4 linked regions of the Homo sapiens genome follow. The protein of the gene in region 1 binds, or shares a complex with, the protein of each later gene. Each region holds a gene or a part of one and is shown in the gene's direction. Other genes may lie near its edges.

Region 1 (3,500 bases):
TATTATCCCTGTGATTAGGCATTTATGGCCAGTGTCTATGTGGATCATTTTGCTTTAATTAAAGAATCAGCAACTGTGTTTTACTTTTTTTTGTCAGATATAAAGCATTCTTTCTATCCTAAAATTATCATAATATGAGATAAATTTCTATTTCATTTCTATAGTAGTATAAATGCGTTATGCATTTGGGAATGCAACATCCAGTTTATGAGTTTGATATCCATATATGGTTAGCTAGCTTTGTACCAGTTAGTTTTGGTGACAGTGGTATTAGATGCTAGTCTAAGGCATAAATCATCACTTCTCAGCATGTCCAACATCTCCTTCCACCCCACCCTTCAGAATCCCTAAGAAAACTCAAATTCATTTCCTATGTGATGTTGGTTTAAACTCTTATCTTTTTATATGAAGGAGAAAATACCATATTTTTGCTCTTTTTAAATAGAAGTTCAGAACTTAACAGTATATAAAATAATGAAGATACTTCTAATATAAGTGTAGAGCAATGAATAATGCTTGTACATTTTTAGCTACCATTATATGGAAAATGAAAGCAGTGATAAAAATTAGTGTTTCTTCTAGTTATCTTCATCTAGCTCTCTCTGAATTCCAACAAACTTAAGCAGTTTGATCATTTGTAATATCAGTTCTCTGTCATTGTTGCTTCTGGATTAATTGACTTGGGGATTAATTGATCCTCAAAAGGATGGTCCCCCAAGCTAGTAACATCTGACTCCTAACATTCTGAATCACATCAAAGTTTGAGAACCACTAGCTTAGACTCTGAGTTCTTTGTTTATGACCATGACCATTCTCCACCTGTCATCACATGTCCTCCTTCCCTGTGCGTCTGGTTCCATTTGGCTTAATAGTTCATTCCTCAGTTTATCTCTTCCACTCTCATTTTACTATAAGCAGCAAGCAGGAAACTGCAGCCTTCTACACTTTGCTTGCAGTTTTCCTCAGCTAAATATCCAAGTTCATTGCTTAGAAGTTGCACCTTCCACCCAGCGCTGGAACACACAGTTCAGCCAGCTGTTTGCCACTTTATAACAAGGACTGTCTTCTCTGTAGTGTATAATAACATGTTTTCATTTCCTTCTGAGACCTCATTAAAAGCTCCTTTAACGTTTGTATATCTACAACATTCTGTCCACAATGATACATGTATTCTCTAAGACAACAGAAGGTTCTTTCCAGCTTTATTTCCATCTCAGCTCTTAGCAGAATTGTCTTTAATCTCCCTATTTCTACCAGCAATCTCTTCAAGATAGTGTAGTTTTATTTTCTGTCAAATGCTTAAATATTCTTCTACCTCCTACATATTACCCAATTCCAAAGTCACTTCCATGTTTTTAGGTATTTGTTAGAGTAGCACCTCATTCTCTGCACTAAAGTTGTATCATCAGTATTCACCAGAAAAGCAGATCCAGTAGGTTATGTTTATTTCAAGGAATTGGTTTATGGGATTATGAAGGCTAACAAGTCCGAAGTTTGTAGGGTAGGCTGGCAAGCTTGGACATGAATTGTCATAACATTGTGGAGGAAGAATTACATTTTCTTCTGGGAAACCTCAGTTTTTGCCAGTTTTAGCCTGTAGAGTGATTGAGGGCTGTTGTATTATTAAGGATAGTCTCCATTACTTAAAGTTAACTGATTACAGATGTTAATCATATCTATAAAATACAGCAACATCTAAATAAGTGTTTCATTAAATAACACCTAGATAAATGTATGATGGCATAGCCAAGTTAACACACAAAACTATACCATCACAGAGAGGAAATGTGGGCTAGGGTCATTTGGGTTGTTATTGACATCTGTTATTGGATGGACAGAGGATGTGTGACATCTAATCAGAGAAGTTATCTGAGATATGCTATCTTTTCAGTAAAGTTATTTTCAAATTGTGTTCCTGGGCATTTTAGCAAATGGTAACCCAATTTATATCATTTTAATTTACTGTCATTTATTTTGTTCTTGTTTGATCGTTATTACCAGCTATGTTTTTTACATCTTAACTCTGTGATTTAGTTTGTGGTAGAAACATTTTGTTATATAGCTTACCTGAATTTAATGAACAATGGTACCAGCTAAGCCAAAAGAATGAAGAAGCCCACTTAAGTGATCATAAAAGTAACAATACTAGTTGATGTACTCAAATTTGGTTTATAGGCCAGTACTGCTCTGTAGGGAAAATTCTTTTTGCCTGGGAATTAAATAGGGACTATTTTAATTAGTGCACCATCTAGATAAATGGAGCCTTTAAAAATGTACCAGTTCGCATAGTGTTTTCATTATATAAGTGGTTATTTCTAGGTTGCATAATGTAGTCTATGCAAATTTTAACTTTTGCTTAACTTTATAAAGTCTTATAAGAGAAAAGGAATAGACTATTGTCTTTATATTGTTTGATTTTGCTACTACTTTGTTCACTAACCTATAGTGGTTCACTCTTGTATAAAAATTGAATTTTTTTCATTCTAAATTTTAAGGCCATTCAGTAGGATCCCTCATTTATTTCATATTTCAGTTCTCTCATTTTGTAATGTATCATGATTTTACTTTTTATGCAAACCTACCCTATCTGAATTTCATTTGCTTGCCCTACATTTTCTTACCTGAAATGGTTTCTTCTTTACATCAAAGCCTTGCTTATTATTTCTGAGTTAAAACGACATGTTTTAGTAGGAGGAGGGGTCTCTGTTCTCTGCCTTCAATGTTCCGTGACTGTGGCAAATGGAATATTTACTCTTTGATCTCTGCATTCCCCAGTTGCTTCATGTGACTTCTCAGTGTTTACACATAGTGCAGTCCATTCATTTGTATTTGCTTTAATGTTCTAAGTGTTCTCATGTGTGTTAATGTCTCGTTTTTTTGAGGTTATTTTTGTTTTTGCTTTTTTTTTTTTTTTTAGAGATACCCTCCCTTCAATCAAAAATTTTAAAAACTAGCAGGTTTTTTTCCCCTTTTGAGAAGTCCAGTTTGTGACATTTTTTTCTCCCATAAAGTCCTTCTCTCCTTCCTTTTCATCAGACATTTCCACAACTATTCAGAGCTTTTTTTGTTAGCATTAAAGAACTTCTCAGAGCTTTTTGAACATTTAATGTGATGTTAACTCATTTCTCCTCTTAACAGAATGTTTGATGTGGGAGGTCAGAGATCTGAGCGGAAGAAGTGGATTCATTGCTTCGAAGGAGTGACGGCGATCATCTTCTGTGTAGCACTGAGTGACTACGACCTGGTTCTAGCTGAAGATGAAGAAATGGCAAGTAGAACTACTTTAAGAGTTGAGCTTGAAACATGAAGAGCTGAAGGTGTTGCCAAGAATTTCTTTCTAATGTCTATAACAATTTGAAAGTACAGGGTCTTTCCTCTAACTTTTCTATTTGATAAAAGAGAGATATACTAGAGAAGCACAGGTGGATCTTGAGGAAAAGGAAAACATGGAGAGTCAATCTCACCTCAAGCCTGTAAGCTTAACTATGCATTTCTGTATC
Region 2 (2,819 bases), on another chromosome or scaffold:
TCTGGGGCTGATGCTGAGTCTGGTCCCAAGGGTGCAGGGGCCAAGGACAGGACCCCCAGGGAGCTCACAGCTGGTAGGGGGTGGTAAACAGGCAGCCTAGCAGAGAGTGAGGGTTCAGGTTGGTCCCAGGGAGCTTCTGAGGCTCTCACTGAGTGTGGCAGGGCACCAGTCCGGGACCCCAGTGGGGAGGGTTAGAGGAAGGGAGGGGAAAGAGGGAGGGAGGGAGGACAGGAGGGGAAAGGAGGAGCATTGCTGCTGAGGGAAGGGCCCACATAGGGGCCCACAGGCTACGGGGGCGCACCCAGCCCAATATTCCTTCCGCCCCGCCCCTGACCAGCCTGCCCTTCTGCAGGTCTCATACCGGGCCCAGCAGGGTGACACGCGGCGGGCAGTGCGGAAGATGCTGCTGGTGTGGGTGCTGGCCTTCCTGCTGTACGGACCAGCCATCCTGAGCTGGGAGTACCTGTCCGGGGGCAGCTCCATCCCCGAGGGCCACTGCTATGCCGAGTTCTTCTACAACTGGTACTTCCTCATCACGGCTTCCACCCTGGAGTTCTTTACGCCCTTCCTCAGCGTCACCTTCTTTAACCTCAGCATCTACCTGAACATCCAGAGGCGCACCCGCCTCCGGCTGGATGGGGCTCGAGAGGCAGCCGGCCCCGAGCCCCCTCCCGAGGCCCAGCCCTCACCACCCCCACCGCCTGGCTGCTGGGGCTGCTGGCAGAAGGGGCACGGGGAGGCCATGCCGCTGCACAGGTATGGGGTGGGTGAGGCGGCCGTAGGCGCTGAGGCCGGGGAGGCGACCCTCGGGGGTGGCGGTGGGGGCGGCTCCGTGGCTTCACCCACCTCCAGCTCCGGCAGCTCCTCGAGGGGCACTGAGAGGCCGCGCTCACTCAAGAGGGGCTCCAAGCCGTCGGCGTCCTCGGCCTCGCTGGAGAAGCGCATGAAGATGGTGTCCCAGAGCTTCACCCAGCGCTTTCGGCTGTCTCGGGACAGGAAAGTGGCCAAGTCGCTGGCCGTCATCGTGAGCATCTTTGGGCTCTGCTGGGCCCCATACACGCTGCTGATGATCATCCGGGCCGCCTGCCATGGCCACTGCGTCCCTGACTACTGGTACGAAACCTCCTTCTGGCTCCTGTGGGCCAACTCGGCTGTCAACCCTGTCCTCTACCCTCTGTGCCACCACAGCTTCCGCCGGGCCTTCACCAAGCTGCTCTGCCCCCAGAAGCTCAAAATCCAGCCCCACAGCTCCCTGGAGCACTGCTGGAAGTGAGTGGCCCACCAGAGCCTCCCTCAGCCACGCCTCTCTCAGCCCAGGTCTCCTGGGCATCTGGCCCTGCTGCCCCCTACCCGGCTCGTTCCCCCAGGGGTGAGCCCCGCCGTGTCTGTGGCCCTCTCTTAATGCCACGGCAGCCACCCTGCCATGGAGGCGCCTTCCTGGGTTGGCCAGAGGGCCCCTCACTGGCTGGACTGGAGGCTGGGTGGCCGGCCCTGCCCCCCACATTCTGGCTCCACCGGGAGGGACAGTCTGGAGGTCCCAGACATGCTGCCCACCCCCTGCTGGTGCCCACCCTTCGCAGTTACTGGTTGGTGTTCTTCCCAAAGCAAGCACCTGGGTGTGCTCCAGGCTTCCTGCCCTAGCAGTTTGCCTCTGCACGTGCACACACCTGCACACCCCTGCACACACCTGCACACCGTCCCTCTCCCCGGACAAGCCCAGGACACTGCCTTTGCTGCCTTCTGTCTCTTGCATAAGCCTCAGGCCTGGCCCTTTCACCCCTCTTCCCACCAACTCTCTCTGCCCCCAAAAGTGTCAAGGGGCCCTAGGAACCTCGAAGCTGTTCTCTGCTTTTCCATTCTGGGTGTTTTCAGAAAGATGAAGAAGAAAACATGTCTGTGAACTTGATGTTCCTGGGATGTTTAATCAAGAGAGACAAAATTGCTGAGGAGCTCAGGGCTGGATTGGCAGGTGTGGGCTCCCACGCCCTCCTCCCTCCGCTAAGGCTTCCGGCTGAGCTGTGCCAGCTGCTTCTGCCCACCCCGCCTCTGGGCTCACACCAGCCCTGGTGGCCAAGCCTGCCCCGGCCACTCTGTTTGCTCACCCAGGACCTCTGGGGGTTGTTGGGAGGAGGGGGCCCGGCTGGGCCCGAGGGTCCCAAGGCGTGCAGGGGCGGTCCAGAGGAGGTGCCCGGGCAGGGGCCGCTTCGCCATGTGCTGTGCACCCGTGCCACGCGCTCTGCATGCTCCTCTGCCTGTGCCCGCTGCGCTGCCCTGCAAACCGTGAGGTCACAATAAAGTGTATTTTTTTATTGGTGCTGATTCCTGAGGACTTTGTGGGGTGCTCAGAGCCTTCGTGCTTTGAGGAGAGACTCCAGGGAGTCCAGAAACCACTGAGAAGCAGGCGTGAGGATGAGGGCTCTGTGTTTTCTTCTAAGTCGGGGGACTGCAGTGGGGATGAAAGACCAGCCTGCCACACCAGGGTTTAATCCCAAGAAGGGTTTCATGTGCCCTACCGCCAGACCCCTGCACTTCTCAAGACCTGGCTGGCGGGTGAGGAGATGCAGCCCACGCCCTGCACAGGAGGGGCCCGCTCTGGCCCTGAGAACACAGACATGCAGCCTTCCTGCCCCCAGGACAGGTGCCTCATCTTTCTTGGTCAGGAGCAGGGTTGCACCCCAGCAAAACTTGGGACCCAGGGAGGATCATGGCCATGCCCAGCGTGTGCAGGGTCTGGGTGGCAAAGGGACTGCAGTGACCAGAGGGGAGGGATTGGGCTAGCTGGCTGGAGCTAGGCTGGAGGGGCTGCTAGAAGGGATGAG
Region 3 (4,122 bases), on another chromosome or scaffold:
AGGTTGAAGGGCTTTCCAGCACCACAGAGCTTCATGGAACACCCAGGACCCTGAGATGGCCCCCCTCTCTGATCTCACGTCCTGCTGTTTGCCTCTCACTCACTCCTACTTCTATCTATTTGTACCTCAATGGGGCCACACTCATTCCCACCTCAGGGCCTTTGCACTTGCTGTTACCTCTGCTAAAAGTGCTCCTCCTTTTGCCTGGGAGAAGCTGTCTTGGGATCTTCACAAGACTTTGTCCTTCTTGTGGTTCAGTCTCAGATCACAGTCCCCTCCTTAAGAGACCTCTCCTGACTACCCCTTCTAAATCAGCAGCCCCAGGCCAGGTGCAGTGGCTCACGCCTGTAATGCCAACACTGGGAGGCCAAGGCAGGAGGATTGCTTGAGCTCAGGAGCTTGAGACCAGCCTGGGCAACATAGCGAGACCTCCTCTCTTCTAAAACTAAAAAAATCAGCTGGGCTTAGTGGTGTGTGCCTGTAGTCCCAGCTACTCAGGAGGCTAAGGTAGGAGGATTGCTTGAGCCAGGGAGCAAGGCTGCAGTGAGCCATGATCGCGCCACTCCACTGCAGCCTGGGGAACAGAGCAAGACCCTGTCCCCGCCCCCCAAAAAATCAGCCCCTAATCTGTTTGTATACATCACATCTCCCTGCTTTACTCCCTTTGTAGTACTTACTACCTGAAATAATTCTGCTCATTATTTGCTGACATGCTAGAAAAGTGCCTGGCAAATGATTGACTCTCAATGAAGATGTGCTGAATGCAAGGCTTCATGAATGAAGAGGAAATCTCACTAACGTCTTTTGTAATAAGGACCCAGGTACCTATGTTCAAAAGTGCCTCAATCCTAGTTAACAAGGGCAGAGACCACGAGAAACAACACTGTGTTTAGTAGCAACTTAACAACCAGCCAGCAGTTCTGTCCACACACACACCACCGGGCATGGTTCCAAAGCTAAAAAGGCACTAATTGCTTTTCTATAAGGAGGTAGAACACAGTCCCTCCGTGTTCTTTAGGCCTGATGGTCTGCATTATCGGATCTGTTACCGTGTTAATTGTTCCTGTCTCACACAGCCGGTTTGGGCTTTCTTCTGCATATGTCTGGGATGGTGACGGGTTCCTATATAGAGGAGTACTGGGGAAGCCTCTGTGTGTGTGTGTGTGTCCGTGCATATGTACACATGTGTGTAAAAAGCAGCCACACGCTGAGAATGGTTAACGGGTAGCCAGGCTGTCTGTACTCAGGGCCCTAAGACTGGCCCAGGAAAGGGCCGGGGGAGGTGGGGCGGGGTGAAGGTGGAGCGGGCTTGGCTTGTGCTCACTGCCTTTTCCACAACAGGAGTACAAATGCTGGAGTGAGTGAGGTGAACTCAAGTCGCCTTTAGGAATGGCTGAAAAAGCCCACACCTGGAAATCACTCCCTCCCTGCTCCTCCACGGCAGGTTGCATCTGCGAGACGCTTCGGTCATTAGAGGAATGAGCCGGGAGTGAGCAATTCACCAGCTCTCCAGCACTTGGTGGAAAGCAGCAGGCAAGGATGGATGTGGTTGACAGCCTTCTTGTGAATGGAAGCAACATCACTCCTCCCTGTGAACTCGGGCTCGAAAATGAGACGCTTTTCTGCTTGGATCAGCCCCGTCCTTCCAAAGGTAAGTGTCGGAAGCTGTTATTTTAATTCAGGAAACTATTGAGTTGTGGGAGAAATCAGCAAAGGCAAGGCTGATAAAAAATATATATAACCAAGTCATTGTGAGACAAGGCTAGATAAAGTCATATGTTCAGAAGTTTGGAGAAGAGATTAAAAAGCAGAATAGAGTCAAATATTCTTATTGTCCCCCATGGGGGAGTTGGGCATTCATGAATAGGACTTGGGGGAACAAAAGCAGGGGAGGAAAAGCTGAGTGAAGCAAGAGGGACTACAAGTGTCAAAGCCTGAACTTACAAGCACAGCAGAAAAGGTGTTGTCACCATGCAGCTGTTTTCTTTTCTTGGGGGGAAACCCAGCATGAAGTGATTAAAGTGAAATAATGCTTAGCAGCCAGGAAAGAAAGTGATCACTGTTCACTTGAGGAGCTTTGTTCTTAAGAAAAAGTGGTTCCCTGAGTGATCCTTTAACAAACCAACCTTCTAAAAAGAAAATAATTCAGTCTCTGCTTTCCTCAATTTGTTTCCGCAAAATGTTGCCAGGACAGGAATCGTGGGTCCAGTGATGTACACCCCGGTGGGGGGAAAATCGGCAGGAATTCACCCTTGGCTTCGGTTTTAGCATTCTGCTGTCATCACCTCCATCCCTCCGTCTTGCTCCTGTTTCTCTCTGCAGAGTGGCAGCCAGCGGTGCAGATTCTCTTGTACTCCTTGATATTCCTGCTCAGCGTGCTGGGAAACACGCTGGTCATCACCGTGCTGATTCGGAACAAGCGGATGCGGACGGTCACCAACATCTTCCTCCTCTCCCTGGCTGTCAGCGACCTCATGCTCTGTCTCTTCTGCATGCCGTTCAACCTCATCCCCAATCTGCTCAAGGATTTCATCTTCGGGAGCGCCGTTTGCAAGACCACCACCTACTTCATGGGTAAGTTGCTGCTGGTGACTCTTTCTGGAGCTTGCCCCAGACCCCACTCAGCCCCAGACCTTCCCAAACCTCTGACAATCACAGCAAAGGAGCCCTGCTGAGGGCTGAATCACAGAACATCAGGCTGTGCATGGCTGTGTGCACGGACATTGGTGCTGGCTTGACAGTCATCCTTATACGTTCCCCACAAGTCGGTCCCCATCATCCATGTTGGAGGTCAGTTTCTAAGAGTGAAATAAATTGATAGGAAAACACAGGGGCAGTTGATTTTGCTTGCTTCTATTTGAAGGGAAGAGGGACTTGCTTGCTTCTGTTTGAAGTCAGAAGTGACTTTAAGCTGCTCTATCCCTTTCTGGAAGCTGTTGACTGTGTCCTGATCTATACACAACTTGAGTCCTGGCTTCTAGGGAGGGTGAGGATGATGGAGGAGGGTTCTTTGCAGTTGTTTCTTTTGTTTTCTTAGGGAACAGGGGCTATTTGAAAACCAGTTCTATCGCAGTTTCAGATTCTCTTCTCAGGATTCACTTCCCAGCCTGTTCTCCCCAAAGCTGGGGCCATCTCTGGCAGAAAGAGAGAGAGAGAGAGGTCTCTGCCCCTAGATGAGGAGTTGAATTTGCTCCTGGGGGCTATGGGGTCGCTAAGCTGACCCTGATTGGCTGAGATATATAGCTCTTTGCCTATGCCAAACAAAAATGATGATAATGAAAATCATAAGAGCTAAATTTTTTTAGCGCTTTTATGCACCCCATGTGGTACTAAGTGCTTTGCCTTCCATGATCTTACCTTATCTCCCAACCACTCTATGAAGTAAATGCAATGATTCTTCCTTGTCTCCCTAAGGAGGAAACAGAGGCACAGAGAGGTCCATAATGTGCCTAGAACCACACAGATGGTAAGCAACAGAGCTGAGATTTGAGTCCAGATTTGTAGCCACACAATGGTGAGCATGATACCTCAGTTTGCCAACTGCTGTGGTTCTCTTAAAGTTGAACAAAAAAACACATTTCTTGGTCCCCTCTGGGTGCCAGATTGCCTAGTCCCTTGCCCTTTCTGAGAATTAGTTGGGAGAAGGGCAGAGATGGGAAATAAGAAGGGAGTTATTTTTTGTTCTGACCCAAGCCTTGCAGAATATGCAGAACTGAGTTAGGCTAGGGCAGTCTTCAATGACCAGAAAGCCTTATAAGTCCTCATTTTTCCCAGTTGAGGAAGTGGGATTCCACACTGACAAAATGATGGTGAATTACTGACCCTCGTGCCACCAAAAACCAAGAATGTGTCAATCCATGTCCAAGTCCTCTGAAAAAAAAAAAAAAGACAAAACTTACAAAGGAAAAAGATCGTTGTTAAATAATGAAGCAATAATAATAACTAGCACTGTAGACATCCGAGGCCCATCCATATATATCTTATGGTAATACTATTTGGGAACCTTAACCAGAGAATGTGAACCGAGATTTTAAATGAGTGTTTTCATGGTGGCAAAACATTGTGAGTGCCACAGAGTTGTTCAGTTTGAAATGAGGTTAATTTTATGTTATGTAAATTTCA
Region 4 (4,085 bases), on another chromosome or scaffold:
AAAAAAATCAGGAAGAATGAACACTAACCTATTAAAAATAGTTACTTCGAGCAGTGGAATTGAAAAGAAAATCTTTCATTTTTTTTACCCATTATAATTCTGTATTATTTCAATTTATCTCTTCTAGAACAAAGTATGTTCTATTTTTGTAATTAGATGATGACAATGGAAATAAACTAATAAATACTACTCAACTCTTGGCATTTTTCTTTTGATCTTTCTGCCTCAAAAATATTCCGTGGTGACTTGACTGCAAACAAGCAGAGGAGCAGATATTATGGTTTGGACAAGTTGATTAATATAGACTGAAGCCTATATCACAGACAACAGTGTTCAAATACATTTGACCCAAATAAACTTTATTTTATATGCATATATCTAAAAGAGTATATGCATATATCTAAAAGAATAATATAAGAATTATTTACAGCATAGTATTCATTAAGCAGGAATTACCTTCAGTCTTCTGTACTCCTTCCTGATGAAACAGCACCTAGACTCCAGCCTGTTCTCCAGTGACCACTAAGCTCTCCCACCTACCTCCCCACCTACCTGCCCTCTACCACCTACCTGCCTTTGACTAGGCTCCACTTATAGCCTAAGCAGCTTTTCACCTTTTTCTGTCTCTAGAATTCCTACAGGTACTTAATTAAGTACTTGCCCACATCTTATTTCTATCTTAAGACTCTCCTAGATTGCCCTGGGTTATATATACCCCTGGCTAGAGTGTTCTATTATTTTACTTCTATTGTTACTTCTATTATTATAGCCTAGTTTGTATTACAGCTTTGTGTGTATATGTATGGGTACATATTCCCACTCGATTGTGAATCTCTGGAGATTAGAATATAGCTTAATTCATCCTGATTTTGACATGGCACCGTTTTTCACATATATCAAGCATTTCAGATATGTTATTTGAGATTAATTAAATGAGTTTATTCAGGTCATTCCTCCCCAACCACTCCCCACTCCAACCCTCACATCTCATAGAGTCTTTTTTTTTTCATTTCTAAACAAAACCTATAAAGTTGAACCCTATGTACAGAGGTACCCTCTCTCTAACCATTCTCTGTGTGCTGCAGAAAATGTCTCAGGATTATAAACTCCTACTTCTGTTTTCCTGCTTTGCCTTTCTAAGCCATTTAGAAATGACTCACTTTGAAACTCTTCCTGTGAGGTCAGATAGTGGTCTAGAGCATAAGACTTAACTTATTGCCGGAAACAGAGAGAGAACAGAAGAAGAGAAAGCTCAGCAAATTTTCTTGCCATACTTCATGACTTCACTGTGGCTAAGTGTGGGGACCAGACAGGACTCGTGGAGACATCCAGGTGCTGAAGCCTTCAGCTACTGTCTCAGTTTTTTGGTAAGAAAACCTAGACCTACCTGATGACTTGTGCTTAGCCTGTTTTGCTCATTATAGGTAATGAGTTTGAGTGTCACTATCTTCTATTTCCCCTATTCCTTCTCTGACTTTGAATTCTTTTATCTTATCTCTATGTCTAACTTCCTTTTTCTAAATATTCCACATTGCATTTGTCTTTGCTTTTAATATTTTCATAGTGGAATTAATAGTGAATTTTTACATCATTTCTTTCCTTTCTTTGAATTGGCTATGTATTTCACCCTGAACTTTGATTCCAGCTGTCCCCATTAATTTGTTTTTCAAATAATTGATTGCACTTTTTTTCCCTTTCCATTTCCTCTTTCTTTTTTTTATTCTTTTGCCCATTCCTTATTGCTACTGACTCTGTTATCCTATTACTACAATTTGATTCTGGGGTCCACTTTTCTTTCTCTATCACAGTGGAATTTTAGTTTCAGGATATTAATTACCTTTAAATTACGGCTGGTCAACTTAGTAATAATTTTTTTTAATCCTCTACTAATCTTAAACACATAAAGGTATGGTATTTTTAGCCAAATTAACTTGAAGAAATGTAAAAAGTAATCTTGCTCTGCAGGACTTTTTTTTTTTTTTTTTTTTTTTGAGACAGAGTCTCACTCTGTTGCCCAGGCTGGAGTACAGTAGCATGATCTCAGCTCACTGCAACCTCCGCCTCCCAGGTTCAAGCGATTCTCCTGCCTCAGCCTCCTGAGTAGGTGGGATTGCAGGCACGTGCTACCACACCCAGTTAAATTTTTTTGTATTTTTAGTAGAGACAGGGTTCCACCATGTTGGCCAGGTTGGTCTCAAACTCCTGACCTCAGGTGATCTACCCGCCTCTGCCTCCCAAAGTGCTGGGATTACAGGCGTGAGCCACCACACCCAGCCTTGTTCTAAAGGACTTTTAATCCCTGACTCCTACATACTTTCATTTCAAAACAGATAATAACAATATTTAACATATAGCTCATGACAGATAACTCTATTTTTATTAAAATTTTGCTGTTTGCAGTCCCTGCTACTTCAGTTCATGCAGTTCTCGGCAGCTTCCCCTTTATTAGCAATACCATATATCTTTTTTTTTTTAATGTGATTTTTTTTTTTTTTTGGTAGTAAAAACAGCATTTGCCTAACAGTCCTCGGACCTGAAATCCAAGAACCTCCCTAGTAATGATTATATGCTTGTAATCTAATTTGCTGAGTTTCACTGTCAAACTTGAGAAATAAAAGCAGAGAAAACGTAGGCTGGGCACAGTGGCTCATGTCTGTAACCCCAGCACACTGTGAGGCCAACATGGGAGGATTGCTTGAGTCCAGGAGTTTGAGAGCAGCTTGGGCAACATAGCAAGACCCTATCTCTACAAACAAACAAACAAACAAACAACAACAACAACAACAAAATGAGGAGAGGAGAGATGATTACCAAGTTTTCTTTCAGCCCTAGCATCCCATGACTCTATTCTTCTCTCAATATTTTAGGGGGGTACCGTGATAGTATTTAAATATCTGAGTAGACAAGGCCATGGAAAGGGGAATGAGAATAATTTCTTCTTCTTTTTTTTTTTTTGAGATGGAGTTTTGCTTTTGTTGCCCAGGCTGGAGTGTAGTGGCGCAACCTCGGCTCACCACAACCTCTGCCTCCCAGGTTCAAGCGATTCTCCTGCCTCAGCCTCCTGAGTAGCTGGGATTACAGGCATGTGCCACCATGCCCACCTAATTTTGTATTTTTAGTAGAGACAGAGTTTCTCCATGTTGGATAGGCTGGTCTCAAACTGACCTCAGGTGATCTGCCTGCCTTGGCTTCCCAAAGTGCTGGGATAACAGGTGTGAGCCACTGTGCCCAGCCCATGTCTTCTTTTTTATTATTTTGTTGACTTGCTATTTTAACTTCTGCTAATCATATGAGGCCCTATGGCAATATTTGGCTGACTCAGCAGAACTACTTTCAAGTCACAAAAATATTTTGAGCCTCTATAAAAGTAAAATGTTATTTTATCCAGTAAAAATTAGGAATTTCACAAAAAGAAAGTTAAAAGGGACAGCATGGGAATTAAGGAAGAGGCCTGGGTAAGGATTACATGGATACAAATTAGAATTTTAGATGTAATTGCAAAAGAAAAAAAAAGTCAACCCCCAAAATGGGCATCCATCTATTCAAGTAATTTTTTTTTTCTTTTTTTTTCTTTTGAGACAGAGTCTCTTTGTCATGCAGGCTGGAGTGCAGTGGTGCAATCTCAGCTCACTGCAACCTCCACCTCTCCAGTTCAAGCGATTCTCGTGCCTCAGCCTCCCAAGTAGCTGGGATTACAAGTGTGAGCTACCACACCCAGCTAATTTTTGTATTTTTGGTAGAGATGGGATTTTGCCATGTTAGCCAGGCTGGTCTTGAACTCCTAGCCCCAAGCGATCTTCTCCCCTCGGCCCCCCAAAGTGCTGCGATTACAGGCATGAGCCACTGCGCCCAGCCTTTCCACATAATCTTTAACCTTGGTGTCTCATAAGGCATTATGTTAAATTATGTGAAATGAGCATTTATGAATAAGACTCCTTTTTACCATCATAAAGTTTAAATCCAGAATAATAGATTAGACAGCCATTATAATTATTGTACAAGATAAAATGTGTCATTGCATATAGAATATGAAAAAAAGGTTCAAACATGCGCACACACACAAATTAAGAAGCTGAAGACTTGGT

The links. The genes of interacting proteins can lie anywhere in the genome.
Region 2: the proteins of GNAI1 (region 1) and HRH3 are in contact, whole or in part, in a cryo-EM structure (PDB 8YUU), measured with the Homo sapiens proteins. Residues at the interface, in NP_002060.4 of Homo sapiens: Ala31, Arg32, Glu33, Val34, Leu194, Thr219 (codon at 3,203), Lys314, Asp315, Glu318, Ile319, Tyr320, Thr321, Thr340, Asp341, Ile343, Ile344, Asn347, Leu348, Lys349, Asp350, Cys351, Gly352, Leu353, Phe354; in NP_009163.2 of Homo sapiens: Asn69, Asp131, Arg132, Ser135, Val136, Ala139, Val140 (codon at 353), Ser141 (codon at 356), Tyr142 (codon at 359), Arg143 (codon at 362), Ala144 (codon at 365), Gln146 (codon at 371), Ile221 (codon at 596), Ile225 (codon at 608), Arg228 (codon at 617), Arg232 (codon at 629), Phe344 (codon at 965), Thr345 (codon at 968), Phe348 (codon at 977), Arg349 (codon at 980), Arg352 (codon at 989), Asp353 (codon at 992), Lys355 (codon at 998), Val356 (codon at 1,001), Ser359 (codon at 1,010), Leu360 (codon at 1,013), His416 (codon at 1,181), His417 (codon at 1,184).
Region 3: the proteins of GNAI1 (region 1) and CCKAR are in contact, whole or in part, in a cryo-EM structure (PDB 7EZH), measured with the Homo sapiens proteins. Residues at the interface, in NP_002060.4 of Homo sapiens: Glu28, Ala31, Arg32, Glu33, Val34, Leu194, Thr219 (codon at 3,203), Lys314, Glu318, Ile319, Tyr320, Phe336, Thr340, Ile343, Ile344, Asn347, Leu348, Lys349, Asp350, Cys351, Gly352, Leu353, Phe354; in NP_000721.1 of Homo sapiens: Thr74 (codon at 2,430), Thr76 (codon at 2,436), Arg139, Ala142, Ile143, Pro146, Leu147, Ser149, Arg150, Val151, Ser156, Ser298, Asn299, Ser300, Ser301, Asn304, Ala307, Lys308, Val311, Leu315, Met373, Asn374, Lys375, Arg376.
Region 4: the proteins of GNAI1 (region 1) and C3AR1 are in contact, whole or in part, in a cryo-EM structure (PDB 9IPV), measured with the Homo sapiens proteins. Residues at the interface, in NP_002060.4 of Homo sapiens: Glu28, Ala31, Arg32, Glu33, Val34, Lys192, Asp193, Leu194, His195, Lys314, Asp315, Glu318, Tyr320, Lys330, Phe334, Phe336, Asp337, Ala338, Thr340, Asp341, Ile343, Ile344, Lys345, Asn347, Leu348, Asp350, Cys351, Gly352, Leu353, Phe354; in NP_001313404.1 of Homo sapiens: Asn57, Arg120, Val123, Val124, Pro127, Ile128, Gln131, Asn132, Asn135, Val136, Tyr356, Ile359, Arg362, Met363, Arg367, Phe368, Lys370, Gln372, Lys374, Thr375, Val378, Ala379, Leu438, Gly439.

Annotation. Positions count from the first base shown.
Region 1 is NC_000007.14:80,207,831-80,211,330, forward strand, and holds part of GNAI1 (guanine nucleotide-binding protein G(i) subunit alpha-1), read left to right. Parts: intron 1-3,138; coding exon 3,139-3,268; intron 3,269-3,500. UniProt on the Homo sapiens protein: Guanine nucleotide-binding proteins (G proteins) function as transducers downstream of G protein-coupled receptors (GPCRs) in numerous signaling cascades.
Region 2 is NC_000020.11:62,214,460-62,217,278, reverse strand, and holds the end of HRH3 (histamine H3 receptor), read left to right. Parts: intron 1-352; coding exon 353-1,273; 3' UTR 1,274-1,872; coding exon of another isoform or gene 1,873-1,900; 3' UTR 1,901-2,319; downstream 2,320-2,819. UniProt on the Homo sapiens protein: The H3 subclass of histamine receptors could mediate the histamine signals in CNS and peripheral nervous system. Signals through the inhibition of adenylate cyclase and displays high constitutive activity (spontaneous activity in the absence of agonist).
Region 3 is NC_000004.12:26,487,685-26,491,806, reverse strand, and holds the start of CCKAR (cholecystokinin receptor type A), read left to right. Parts: upstream 1-1,322; 5' UTR 1,323-1,539; coding exon 1,540-1,651; intron 1,652-2,322; coding exon 2,323-2,574; intron 2,575-4,122. UniProt on the Homo sapiens protein: Receptor for cholecystokinin. Mediates pancreatic growth and enzyme secretion, smooth muscle contraction of the gall bladder and stomach. Has a 1000-fold higher affinity for CCK rather than for gastrin.
Region 4 is NC_000012.12:8,063,560-8,067,644, reverse strand, and holds the start of C3AR1 (C3a anaphylatoxin chemotactic receptor), read left to right. Parts: upstream 1-1,285; 5' UTR 1,286-1,367; exon of another isoform or gene 1,368-1,424; intron 1,425-4,085.